Linked DNA regions of Homo sapiens: region 2 is reported to be linked to region 1. The links are microRNA targets in miRTarBase. Many come from high-throughput screens and were not tested one by one. Region 1 holds a microRNA gene; the other region holds the end of a gene's coding sequence.

The links. The annotated mature microRNA hsa-miR-302f reads UAAUUGCUUCCAUGUUU and lies in region 1 at 4,108-4,124, opposite strand. An mRNA with a match to its seed (bases 2 to 7 or 8) in the 3' UTR can be bound and repressed. Matches are read on the target gene's strand: a 7mer-m8 pairs with bases 2 to 8, a 7mer-A1 pairs with bases 2 to 7 and ends in A, and an 8mer does both.
Region 2: miRTarBase lists SNAPC3 as a target of hsa-miR-302f. The part of its 3' UTR that is shown has no 7-base or 8-base seed match.

Annotation. Positions count from the first base shown.
Region 1 is chr18:30,295,694-30,303,059 of GRCh38, reverse strand. MIR302F (microRNA 302f) reads right to left here and starts at 4,150; the gene lies at 4,100-4,150.
Region 2 is chr9:15,458,226-15,465,591 of GRCh38, forward strand. It overlaps SNAPC3 (small nuclear RNA activating complex polypeptide 3), which reads left to right. Exons shown (of 9, transcript NM_001039697.2): 9 at 1,494-3,401. The coding sequence ends at 1,641. It overlaps PSIP1 (PC4 and SRSF1 interacting protein 1), which reads right to left. Exons shown (of 16, transcript NM_033222.5): 16 at 5,841-7,355. The coding sequence ends at 7,295. Among named protein-coding and RNA genes, the nearest start is that of SNAPC3, 39 kb to the left of the region's middle.

The DNA of each region.
Region 1 (7,366 bases):
GATGCAAATAAATAATGAAGAAATTTCAGGCCAGAAGGAATCACTCACACCTGTGTTTCCGGACTTTGGAAAGCCACGGTAGGAAGACTGCTTGAGGCCAAGAGTTTGAGAAAAAAAAAAAAAAAAAATTAGCCAGGTGTGGTGGTGCATGCCTGCAGTCACAGCTATTTGGGGAGGTTGCGGTGGGTAAATTGCTTGAGCTGAGGAGTTTGAGGCAACAGTAAGCTATGATTGTTCCACTGCTTTCCAGCCTGAATAACAGAGTGGGATCTTGTCTCTAAAACAATTTTTCAAAACTACAAAACTACAATGCATACAATGCATTTCCATAAATTACATGATGAAGAACTTTTAATATGGAAGTACTCAGACAGGCACCTATCTAGGACCTGCTGGGGGGTTATGTTGGCAACTTTCTGATGAAATGCTATTGAAGTTGAAACTATATGCATATCCTTAGGACTGCTCATAAGTTTTCTGTGTTTTCTTTTTGGATACTTTTCACAAATAATCTAATTATCTTCCTTCTTTGTATTTGGTAGTATTGTACTTCCTCACTCCAATCCTTACTCTCCCTTGAGTTTAGAAATAGCTGTATGTCTTGCTTGAGTCATTGAAAGTGAGTGACAGTGATGTCTTAAATAGTTTGTATATAAATCACCTAAATAAATTGTTGTTGCTATAGGACTTTAAGATTTATTGCAACATATTTTAGTTCTGACTGACACAGATAAGAATGATGACCAACAGTTAGAAAGGGAGGGGTTAAAGTAGAGAATAGTATTGATATGAGAGAACAGATTATGCAAAATCCTACAGGTAAATAGAATGATGACACCAGTTAAACAAGGATTAAGTGGAAATTGGAATTCAGTAATATTTGAAGGAAATCTATGGTGTGTGTGTGTGTGTACACACATTGTGTTTCTGTGTGCAAAAAGAGCTTGTGAGAAATGAAGTTGGAGAGGTAAGACAAAGCATGATCATGCATGTTAAGGAATTTATTCTATGAGCGAGTAAAATTTTTTGAAAGGATTTAAGTTTGCTACTCAGGCAAGTAGATTAGTGTTTTTGAAGTATCAGGCTTATTAGAGTGTGGTAGATGGCTTGGAAGAAAGCAAGACTGATGGCAAAAGTTATGAGTTAGCAGATTGTTGGTATAGGGAAGAAAAAAACGTATACTTGAACCATACTAGTAGCTACAGAGGTGGAGACAAGTGAATGCAGCCATGCCATGTTAGAATTAGACTCTACAAGATTTCTTGACTCGTTGTGCTGGAGTCAAGAATAATTTTCAGGATTAAGTAGGCAGCATAGAAAGAAAAATTGGTTTTATGTAAGAGACAGGGAATCCAGTTGTAAAGAGGCTGAGTTTGAAGAGCCTCTGAGACATCTAGCTCCTGTTGTAGACTTCAGCTCCTGTCCATTCTCATGGAAGAGTATGAGTCTCTAGGAGATCTGGCATGTTAGCTGATATTGGTTAGTCTTAGCATATCACCGAGGGACAAAGAGTATTGAGGAAAAAAATTAGTGGAAGATGTGTTCTTGGAAAATATGTTAAATAAGAAGATATCCATACAGAATATCTGAGAAGTAGTGACTATAGGGACAGAAAAAAAATGTCAGGAGTTTGCAGAGTAAGAGAGGACAAGCAGATGGATTCAAGAAAAAAAAAAGTGCCAAAAAGTATGGAGAAGTCAAGTAAGCTAAGAATAAATGACGGGACTCCTCAATAGGAAAGTTACTGGATAACTTACGGATGTTTCAGTGGAATACTACAGGCAGAAGTCAGATTGTTTCAAGTTGAAGCATTAATAGGAAATTAGTGAAGTAAAGATATGGAGACAGTGGTGCTTGTTTTAACAGAGAAATGGGGAACATGGTAACAGAAACATTACAATAAAGCAATATTTTTTCAATTAAAAAATAACTTGAAGGTATTTGAAGGTCATGAGAACACACCAATAGAAAGGAAGAAAGGATAATAATCAACAGCATACACAATAATCAATACTGTATACAATAGTGGAAGTGAAGGAAATCTGAATGCAAACAGAGCCAACATTTTCCACTGGTTAAGAAAAGAGAGAAGGGAGAAAGACTTTGTTTATGTTAAGTTCCTACGTTTCACATCAAAACATAAAAGTTATTTCTATTTGGTACTGTCTAAGGATGGAAGTAAGGTATCTTATGAGCACAAGAGGAGAGAAAATGAAATCTAAGGTTTGAGGAAAGTAGAAAAATAATGAAATATTTTCTTTCTGACAGAAGAATGTGCAGGAAAATGAAGATGGATTGCTGAGCAGAATTTAGGGCCCAGTAAGAATGGAGACCTGGATATTTAGTGGCACCAATTCATAAATATCCAGAAAGCCTGAGCCACACTGGAACATAAGATAGTAAAAGTGGCATTTGAGATTTAGCAAACTCTTCATCTCAATTCCCAACCCAGAGAATATACAACTTGCATTTCTGAATCCTTCAAGGTTGCATTGTTCTAGGCAAGAAACACCTACCATTTACGACCTCTTGTTCAGAACTGAAAGATGCCAGAGCTGCTGTTTTTGTTGCTGTTGTTACAGAGAACACAATGCAAAGGAATGATTTTGAAGGTTCGAGAGCATTGAAGGTTAAGGTTGTGGAAGGGGAAGCAAAGAGAAGTTAAGATGAAGATATTGCGGGAAAAGAGGGATTAATACACTGTCTTATATCTTGGGCAGAAATTTGAAACTTAAAGGTTTAATTGCTTCAAAATTTCTATTCCTCCTGGTGGATGAGTGTTTAGTGGCAGTCTATCAGTGCTTAGGGAGTCTTAGACAGGAACCCTTAACAGAAGGAAAACATTTATGTATTAATTTTCACTCTTTTCTCAATAAAATAACAAAAAGTAAAATTATGTATGCTCAAGAATCATCAGTATATAAATACAAGAAAATATTCCAAAATAACACCAGGGTATATCTCTGGTTAACGAAATTATAGGAATATTTAATTTTCTTCCAAATGCTTTTTCTAATTTTTAAATGTTTAAAATCACAATTATTAAACACCTTTTCTATTTTAAATATGCCTATAATTCTTCCATTGTAGTTATTATTTAAGGCAAATAATTATCTTGGCCTTGGCGTCAACAGTTAAAATGCAACTCCCCTTAGAACAATCATCATTATATGCTTTAAATATAACAAAAGTTGGTTTATTAAATTACATTTTCTTTGGTAGGAACAAAGTAAGGCAGTGATTTCGAAAATTTTTAAGGCTATTAAATAAAATATAGTGGGGCTACTAGGAATAAACAATGTATTTTCACATCAACAAAAATTACTTATCCTTTGACTGTACAGAAAAGTAATATAAAATAAAAAGAAACAAATACGACCTGCAGGCAACACTCTTAACTGATTTATACCACTTTGGCAATCCCTAATCTCCCTGCTTCAGATCAGCTTTTAGCATTAATACTGTGACACCTAATAGCTGAGCATCCTATCAACGCAAAAAGTGCAACTTTAACTAGGTGTTTCTGATACGTGGCAAAGTCACTGATTTAATTAGAATCATTCCTTTAAATTTCAAAAGTTCACTGTTACAGTATTTTCACAAATGCCTCTAAAATTAAGTGAATGTTTTTGAGTTAAATTTTATCTCATTGATGATTGGTGGCCATGTTACATCATACCATTCCATCTTTCAGTATAAATAAGATAAATCTAGAGAAAATAGAAATGACCTTTGCATCTGATTAAAGTATATTTTGTATCTGGTATTTTAAAATAGGATCATTTAAAGTTTTCTATGGCAAGTTGATTTGAGAAACATTCATTTCAAGAGCCAAAGGGAAGCCTACTAATGCATTTATCTAAAACTAACAATCATAATTAGCTTAAGTTATGCAATGCCCTCAATAAATAAGTGACGGTTTTAAGCCAAGTCATATTTTTGCTACTATTTTGCTAAATATTTGTGGAATAAAATGATTTGAATCATTTGCAAGTTATATAAGCCATTAGTGATTATGGCCCAAGGTATCAACGGAAAGTTATTTAAGTAATTTCCAAGGCCTGTTCCACAGTAGACCAGATGTTAATCATCTTTTATGTCTTTTATAAACATGGAAGCAATTAAGTGAAAATTGCCAGGTTTACACAGAAGACATTATCATTGACAATTATAGTATTAGAGAATAACTAGTGATTTAAGTTTTATTGAAGAATACAAACTTCATACCATATTACAATGGCCCTTTTGTAAACTATAAAACAAAGCAAATTAAGTAAATAAACACAGGAGATTTCCAGAAATATTCATGGGAAGGGAAAGAAAACATTTGCAGTACAGCAGTGAATAAAACACAGTCTCCCTTAGAAATAGTCAAAAAAATACATGTGAATGTGATTAATCTTAAAAATAGTGAGTTAAGGGAGAGTGTGATTTTTATGATGGTCCAGTCTTTTGATTCTGAGAGAGGTACCATACTAAAACTGAGGCTAATCTATTGCTTAAAAGAACCAAATGTGTCTCTGCCAGGTTTTGATATCAGGATAATGCTGGCCTCATAAAATGAGTTAGGGAGGATCCCCTCTTTTTCTATTGTTTGAAATAGATTCAGAAGGAATGGTACCAGCTCCTCTTTGTACCTCTGGTAGAATTTGGCTGTGAATCCTTCTGGTGCTGGGCTTTTTTGGTTGGTAGGCTATTAATTACTGCCTCAATTACAGAACTTGTTATTAGTCTATTCAGGGATTTGACTTCTTCCTGGTTTAGTCTTGGAAGGGTTTATGTGTTCAGGAATGTGTCCATTTCTTATAGATTTTCTAGTTTATTTGCATAGAAGTGTTTACAGTATTCTCTGATGGTAGTGTGTATTTCTGTGGGATCAGTGGTGATATGCCCTTTATCATTTTTTATTGTGTCTATTTGATTATTCTCTCTTTTCTTCTTCATTGGTCTGGCTAGTGGTCTATCTAGTTTGTTAATCTTTAAAAAAAAAACAGCTCCTGGATTCATTGATTTTTTTAAGGGTTTTTCATGTCTCCATCTCCTTCAGTTCAGCTCCAATCTTAGTTATTTGTTGTCTTCTGCTAGCTTTTGAATTTGTTTGCTCTTGCTTCTCTAGTTCTTTTAATTGCGATGTTAGAGTGTCGATTTTAGATCTTTCCCACTTTCTCCTGTGGGAATTTAGAAGCCAGTATTATCTTGATATGAAAACCTGGCAGACAAAAAAATGAAAAATTCATGCCAATGTCCCTGATGAACATTGATGCAAAAATCCTCAATAAAATACTGGCAAACCAAATCCACCAGCATATCAAAAAGCTTATCCACCATAATCAAGTAGGCTTTATCCGTGGGATTCAAGGCTGGTTCAACATATGCAAATCAATAAATGTAATCCATCACATAAACAGAACCAATGACAAAAACCAAATGGTTATCTCAATAGATGCAGAAAAGGCCTTCGATAAAATTCAACACCCCATCATGCTAAAACCTCTCAAAAAACTAGGCATTGATGGAACATATCCCAAAATAATAACAACTATTTATGACAAACCCACAGCCAATATCATACTGAATGGGCAAAATGGGCTTTCAAAACTGGCACAAGACAAGGATGCCCTCTCTCACCATTCGTATTCAAGATAGTATTGGAAGTTCTGGCCAGGACAATCAGTAAAGAGAAAGAAATAAAGGGTATTCAAATAGGAAAAGAGGAAGTCAAATTGTCTCTGTTTGCAGATGACATTATTGTGTATTTAGAATACTCCATTATCTCAGCCCAAAACCTCCATAAGCAACTTCAGCAAAGTCTCAGGATTCAAAATCAATGTGCAAAAATCACAAGCATTCTTATACACTAATTATAGACAAACAGAGAGCCAAACCATGAGGGGACTCATTCACAATTGCTACAAAGAGAATAAAATACCTAGGAATACAATTTACAAGGGACGTGAAGGAACTATTCAAGGACAACTGCAAACCACTGCTCAAGGAAATAAGAGAGGACACAAACAAAGGGATAAACATTCCATGCTCATGGATAGGGAAAATCAATATCATGAAAATGGCCATACTACACAAAGTAATTTATAGATTCAATGTTATCCCCATCAAGTTACCACTGACTTTCTTCACAGAATTAGAAAAAACTACTTTAAATTTCATATGGAACCAGAAAAGAGCCCGTAGAGCCAAGGTAATCCTAAGCAAAAAGAACAAAGCTGAAGTCATCACGCTACCTGACTTCAAACTCTACTACAAGGCTACAGTAACCGAAACAGCATGGTACTGGCACCAAAACAGATACATAGACCAATGGAACAGAACAGATGCCTCAGAAATAACGCCACACATCTGCAACCATGTGGTCTTTGACACACCTAACAAAAACAAGCAATAGGGAAAGGACTCCCTATTTACTAAAATGGTGTTGGGAAAACTGGCTAGTCATACGCAGAAAACTAAAACTGGATCCCTTCCTTACACCTTATATAAAAATTAACTCAAGATGGATTAAAGTCTTAAATGTAAGACCTAAAACAATTAAAACTCTGGAAGTAAACCTACGTAATACCATTCAGGACATAGGCATGGGCAACGACTTCATGACTAAAACACCAAAAGCATGACAACAAAAGCCAAAATTGACAAATGGGATCTTATTAAACTAAAGAGCCTCTGCACAGCAAAAAAACAAACAAACAAAACAACAACAACAAAAAACTATCAAATCAGAGTGAACAGGCAACCTACAGAATGGGAGAAAAATTTTGCAAGCTATCCATCTGACAAAGGGTTAATATCCAGAATCTACAAAGAACTTAAACACATTTACAAAACAAAACAAACAACCCCATCATAAAGTGGGTGAAGGATATGAACATACACTTCTCAGAAGAAGATATTTATGTGGCCAGCTAACATAAGAAAAAAGGCTCATCATCACTCACCATTAGAAAAATGCAAATCAAAACCACAATGAGATACCATCTCATGGCAGTTAGAATGGTGATCATTAAAAAGTCAGGAAACAACAAATGCTGGAGAGGATGTGGAAAAATGGGAATACTTTTACACTGTTGGTGAAAGTGTAAATTAGTTTAACCATTGTGGAAAATAGTGTGGCAATTCTTCAAGGATCTAGAACCAGAAATACCATTTGACCCAGCAATGCCATTACTGGGTATATACCCAAAGGATTATAAATCATTCTACTCTAAAGACACATGCACACATATGTTTATTGCAGCACTGTTTACAATAGCAAAGACTTGAAACTAACCCAAATGCCCATCAATAATAGACTGGATAAGGAAAATGTGGCACATATATACCATGGAATACTATGCAGCCATAAAAAGGA
Region 2 (7,366 bases), not on the chromosome of region 1:
AACTAACATTCTTAAATAGTCAGGAAATATTATATGTACACAAGTCCAGGGATAGGTCAAATTTCAGGCTTGTAAAATGTATACAGCTAGGTGAATAAAAATAAAAGTCACTAGTGTTAAGCAAAGCAAAGAATTCTCTGATAGAATACATTCAAGAAAAGCTCTGTACAATAACTCCCTGTTAGAGGGTCACAGTGCACATTACCATAAAGGGATTTGGGAAGTCTAACCAAAGAAAACCTTGTTTAATCCAAAATGCTCGAGAGCCATGTTCTTTCTGCCTCTTGTCCACATAGTTTACATAATCAGCTTCATCAATAAAACTTCATCAATAAAACCACAGTACATCACATGAAGTTAAAATATAGTTTTATAAAATTTTTACTTTATGTGATTCTACATGTTTAGATTATAAGGCATTTCTTACTGTGGGTCAGTAAAAAAAAAATTTGTTGCTTTTGGAGGCTGAGGTGGGAGGATCGCTTGAGGCCTGGAGACCAGCCTGGACAACACAGCAGTAACTATAAAAAACATATAAAAAAAATCTGAAAGCCACTCAGAGGAAAGGAAATTTAGTACAGGTTGAGCATTCCAAATTTCAAGATCAGAAATCCAAAACCTGAAAGTGTTTGAGTGGCAACATCTGATGCTCAAATGATCATTGGAGCATTTTGGATTTCAAATTCTCAGTGGGATGTTCAACCGGCAAATATATGCATAATATATTTAAAAATCTGAAAAAAATCTGCAATTTGAAATACTTCTTTTTGATCCCAAGCATTTCAGATAAAGGATACTCAACTTGTATCTTCAGTTTGTTTTCGCCACCCCACCACAATATTCTTTTCTGAAAGATCAATAGGAAAACATGATAAATCAAAGTGAAAATAATGTTAAAAGCAAACATTCCATGAGATGCAGAATTCAAACATACCATACAATAGCATCTTCATGCCATTCAACATTTTGGTTGAATAATGTTGCCCATATTGCTATTTGTATATACTTTATAACATAATCTTGAGTTCTAGGTAAAAAGAGTTATATAGTTTTCAAATTAACCAGTACTCATTTATCAGTTAAGAAGGTATATTAAGCAAAAGTCTATCAGATTTGTAGCATCTAATTTTGCCATGGTTTTTCAAGATGGTCTGTTAGAAGAAAATGACTATATTCGTACTTGGAGGATAGGTATGTCGTGGCAAATGTGTGATGCTTTCAAATAGATTTATATTCTTCCTTTAAGGGTAAGTATTACAGAGAAACAGCATTCTGCAGTGTTTCTTAATGTTAGATGCCCTTTCGCTTTGTAGAGAGAGTATTGGTGGTGATGTATTTGTATCTATGTATACAAAATTAAGGGATTATTATGCATTAATAACAGACTGATAAGGAAATAGAATGTTATATTTACATATTGCTACAGGTCATAAAGCATGTTAAGTATGGCAAATTTGATTGTAATGATGTACTTCTTTTTTTAAAAACTACAGATGGGTGACGAACAATGACAGTTTTGCACCAGAGGACCCATGCTTCTTTTGTGATGTTTGCTTCCGAATGCTGCACTATGATTCAGAAGGCAACAAACTGGGGGAATTCCTTGCTTATCCTTATGTTGATCCTGGAACCTTTAATTAAGAATAGCTACACTCACAAAAATACCCCCTCATGAAATAACTGTTCTCTTGGATGGTTACCTTATTTCTAAGAAACGCCACTGAGGAACAGGATCCACTTTGAACAGTCCGCTAAAGCTATCAAAAAAAAGTCCAAATGACAGATTTTCTTATAATGATAGTATTTAAATGTTTATAACATAGTTTAATTTTATATTTATTCCAGATAGTATTTAATTTAGTGCTTTTTACCCATTTTGAGTTGAGTTGTAGTACTTTATATATTCTGACTTTAAATCCTTTGTCAGACACACATATTCTTTCTCCCAATCCATGCCTTCCCTATTCATTCTCTGTCCAGAGTTTTTTGCTAAAGATAGAATTATTAATGATACATCAAGTAGTGGAAGTGTTTTGAAAATTCTTTGAAGAATGTGAGAGCTACACCTTCTACCATGAGGCTTCCAAGGTAAAGATCCTTCAAATAACTGTAATGGAAACTAGGGAGAATGAATTATTTACAAATAAGACAAAATTAATAGCTTTGGGATTATTTATTTTTTGAGACAAAATCTCGCTCTTGTTGCCCAGGCTGGAATACAGTGGCGCAATCTCAGCTCACTGCAGCCTCCGCCTCCCGGATTCAAGTGATTCTCCTGCCACAGCCTCCTGAGTAGCTGGGATTGCAGGCACCTGGCACCATGCCTGGCTAATTTTTGTATTTTTAGTAGAGACGGGGTTTCACCATGTTGGCCAGGCTGGTCTCAAACTCCTAACCTCAGGCGATCCACCCGCCTAAGCCTCCCAAAATTTTGGGATCACAGGCGTGAGCCACCGCGCCCGGCTGCTTTGGGGGAATTTAATCTTAGTGTGCTGTTTAGTAATGTTAGGTTTTGTTTTGGAGGAAACTAGGCATACAAGACATGTTAATAAGACTATGTGAATAATGAATTTAAAAAGATCTTGAGTATATACTCATAACTCCAGAAATAACATTAACTTGAAGCTTTATTTCTTGACAAAAGCTTTATGAATGTTATGAGTTTAAAATATGTCAATTTAATACTATGATTTAAAAAACAATAGCAGATTTCGTATGACTGTGGGGACATGGAAAAATCAAGATCCTATTGATTGCTAGCTCTGGCTCACTTATTCTCCGGTAATGATACTATTGGATATATACCAAAATTATATAAGCAAAAAGAAAAAAAATAAGTTTTCCTGGCCCAGGTCTTCCATTCTTCTGGTCCCCTTACTATAGTAATTCTAGTTACTCTCATCTTATTCTGAGGAAAAAAAAAAAAACCAAAACTTTTTAAACTTATTTTTTGACATAGGGTCTTACTGTGTCACCCAGGCTGGAGTACAGTGGCGTGATCTTGGCTCACTGGAGCCCTGACCTCCCTAGGCTCAGGTGATCCTCCCACCTCAGCCTACCGAGTAGCTGAGACATGGTGGCACAGGCCACCATGGCGGGCTAATTTTTTTATTTCTTGTAGATACAGGGTTTCACTATGTTGCGCAGAATAGTCTCGAACTCCTGACCTCAAGTGATCCATCCGCCTTGGCCTCCCAGAGTGCTGCGATTACAGGCATGAACCACAGCGCCCAGCAAAATAAACTTTCTTTATTTTCAGGTCTAGACCATCAGATAGATTTATTCAAATATTTTCTGGGAACCTTTATGGGTAGAACATTTAATACTGTTTAGAAGACTTTTAGGAATACTATAGATTTCAAATGCATCATTTAAAATAAATAAATTCCACTTTCTCTCTCCTAGGTTGTATTTAAATTTGACTGAATATCTGGATGGCTAAGAACAGACATTTATCTTACACATGGAAAACTGACGAAACCTATAAGCCTATGTGTTTGACAGTGAAGTATGTTTTATGGACTTAAATGCCACAAACAGTTAAGTCCATTGGCTTGGAGATGACAAGCACGAGTTTCTGGTATGTCTAGTGTTCTCATTCACTGATTCAGTCAGTACACAGATAATCAGTATAGAGAACTTAAGAGGCTGGCTTATGTTATACCTAAATTTTTACTTTCTTGTATACAACAATGCTAAAATTGAGCAGATTGATAACTGCCAGCAAACCATAGATTTAAGATAAATGAATGATTTACCCAACCCTAAAATTCCATGGGTAAAAATTTTGATTCCTTTATTTTCAATACTGCGTTCCTTATAGGTCTTACATGCATATGCAAGGATATTTTATCTTATTCATTCATTTCATACTCTCAAAACACCAAACTTCAAAAAGTTAATTATTGTCATAATGCATTATTCCATGTGTGGTGTCAATACATTTTAGCGGACAAAGAAGAAACATGCCAGTTAAAACATTTCTGCTACTGGGATTCTTTATTAATTATTTGAGAATGTTATTTTGCTAGTTCTTAAGGTTAAGTTTTTCATCAAAGACTCAGGTACCTATTATTGTTCCCTGGTGAAACTGAGGAGAAAAGTTAATCAACCAGGTTACTCCCACAGTTTGCCCGTGTGTTATGTATCAGTTATACAGGTATCCCACCAAGTTCAAGTCAAAAGAAATTCCTAACTTTGTATATTTCTGGAGCTATAAAACCCCTGATTTAAGACAGCTTTTCTCTTTTTTCGAGGCAGCTTTTCTTTATGCTTATTTCAATCAAATGTAACACGCCTGTCAAATTACATGTAACACATTAGCTAATGAAGATAGGCAACTGAAAATGTTGTCATGAACATGTCAACCTGCTTGGTAGTTGAATTTGACTTTTATATAATAGTGGATACACATGCACAGAAGTTACTAGAGAAGCAATAGCTATTTCTTTAAACATTCTTCAGGCATCAGTACCATTTAAGGACAATTAGACATTCTAGTTTTACTAGGAGAAAGGTCAGTCATCTCTAACATTGTGTTGCAGAATTACACGACACAAACATAAACACATTTCTGCCTATTAAACCAGTTTCTTTGTTTCTAAAGAGTTTAATGATACAGGTTTGCTATTTCCATTAGAGCATCCTTTTTCTGGCCAATCGGACAAAATAGAGTTAGCAAAGCCCTCACAGCACCCTATGAAAAATCTCTGCTCTTATACAGGATTAGATGCAGACCTCATCTTGACCTAACATCTGTAACCAGGTAAGTGTATGAGTAGGAACACAGACAGCAGTACTGTATCAGCAAAATCTATCATATTATTTGAAATCACTGGATATAATATTAATTATAAAGTGTATGGTTCTCTCCAGTTGTTCACATACCAAATCCCAGTCAGTTCTCAGATTCAGATAGATGTATCTGCAATTTCTCCAAGCAGCTAAGAAAACCTTCAATGGTCAGTTCTGCTTGGTCATGGTATGACTCTTTTTTTTTTTTTTTTTTTTTTTTTTTGAGATGGAGTCTTGCTCTGTCTCCCAGGCTGGAGTGCAGTGGGGCAATCTCAGCTCACTGCAACCTCTGCCTCCCGGGTTCAAGCAATTCTCCTGCCTCAGCCTCCCGAGGAGCTGGGATTACAGGCACGTGCCACTGCGCCCGGCTGATGTATGACTCTTTTATCCAGTAATCAAAACACATACGTACATACACACACATACCAGCCCAAAAGAGGTGTTAAAACATACATATTACACGTACTTTTTGGAGGGGTGGGGTGGGGTGGGGTGGGGTGGGGTGGGGGTTATCTATCTCAAAATTACCTTTTGGTGCCTTGTCAAGCTGTGGAGTTTTGACCACACACACAAATTGAGCCAATGAACAATTTCAATGATCCTGAAAGTTCTTAAGTCTTATGAATAATTATCAAGAGTTCTGAGAAGTTATCTGTAAATCAGCCTATGACACCATTTCTTGAGAGTTATGATTAAAGAAACAGCAATTATGCTTGAAGCGAACATACATCAACTAGTTAGAGCAAGGTCAGCCTGTACAAGCTGACATAAATTATGAGAATGATGCTCTATCTCTAGAATTGGAATATTCTGTGGCTTCTTTGTAAAACTATAGATCTGGTGGGTCATGGGAAGAAAGGGAGGGTGAACAAAAGATAAATATTACCTTTATTTTTTATCATCTTGAGCTTACTGTTTAGTTACCCCGTTTCCCAAAACAGCACAACCTCTGTGACCAGTTAACTAAGAAATTATTTCCTTGGCAGCAAACCCAGAATTCCATCACTTACTCTTGTAAATAGCAAGAAAGTAATTTACTAGCAGAGTTTGATAGAAAAATTCTTTAATGAAAACAAGTTTACACGTTGAACTTATGGCTTAACTAGAATAAATCTAAGTAAGTTAAAACTGTATAAGGACCAAACAGATAATGACTGGTATATATGCAGGTTCTCTCAAAACGGTGATTCCTAGTTCCATTATAAGACCTCTTTAAAAGCAAAAATGCAATTCTGTAGATGAAAACAGTTATCTCAGAGGGTCAACCACACAATGTCATACAGAGACGCTGGTCTTAAGCCATTTTTTTCCATATTCATATAATTTCAAAACATGAGAAGTATCCTACTTGCTGAGAAGTGCCAAATGACCCTAATATTCAAAATATCTTAGAAATGCTATCCTTTAGTTAACATACCCTTAAATTTTGTAACATTGATTTTACCCTGGATTTAGTCCATACACGTCAATGTACAGACTTATCAAAGTACAATGCTGGAACAACTAGTGTTTGTATTTTTGGAATCTAGAAAATAAAAACAATATAGCCATGATTTCAAATAGGTGAGTTTCCTTATATAACATTTATTCATATTTATTGTATAAGCATCATGATTTTTTCTTCCAATTAAGTTTTAGTGACTTCCTAAAGACATTTTTAACAACATTCCTCAAAAATAAACTTACTTAGTTTTCAGTTTTAGTTACTAGTGCCTGCCTATAAAAGGACCTTAAATGATTTAACCCTAAAGCCAGATTCATTCCTATATATACCCAGTCAGTTGTCTGCAAAGAAGTCCTAAGACTTCACTGAATGCCCAGCCACAAAACTAAATTACCTTCAAAAATTAATGTTTTATAGTTTGTAGAATTCTCAGTTCCATGTCAGTTGCTTAATTAGTTGTCATACCAAAAAAAACCATACAGAGCACACATTGTTCCAAAGAAGCTGGATAATGTAGCACAATGTAGACTGTGAGATTAAAATTAACTTTTGATAAAAAGGGAGTGAGTACTTGTATAGAAGTAACATTTTATCTACCATAAAAATGTGTAACTTCTACAAAACCCACAAACAGTGAAAAGACAGTCTGGTAAATCCAAGGTTTGTAAAAACTATGCACAAAACCCACAGTATTTGGGAAAAGAGGCAAGGTTTATACAAGTAGCAGTTTTAAAAATGTAACTTTGTTCTACTATCAATTACACATTAACATACACACACTAATTGAAAATATGCTACAACCATGTCTGGAAAAGCAGTTTAACATTTTCTAAATGGATTTTATCCCACATTTACTGTATAATGTAGCTGTTAATACTGCACAAGTACACTTAGCGATAATGTTTACTTTACTTTAAAACAAAGGGATTTTCTCCCTCAAAACAAGTTTTCAACATCAAACCTATGCTTATAAAAATTTAAAACTTTCAGCAGTCTATTTCAAATGAAAACCATTACAAACTTCTCAAGTGTTCTCTATATTCCAGGTATGTCAACCTAGTTATCTAGTGTAGAATCCTTCAGAGATATTTCAGTCTCTCTCTCTTCACTGGATGGCCTGAAGAAAAG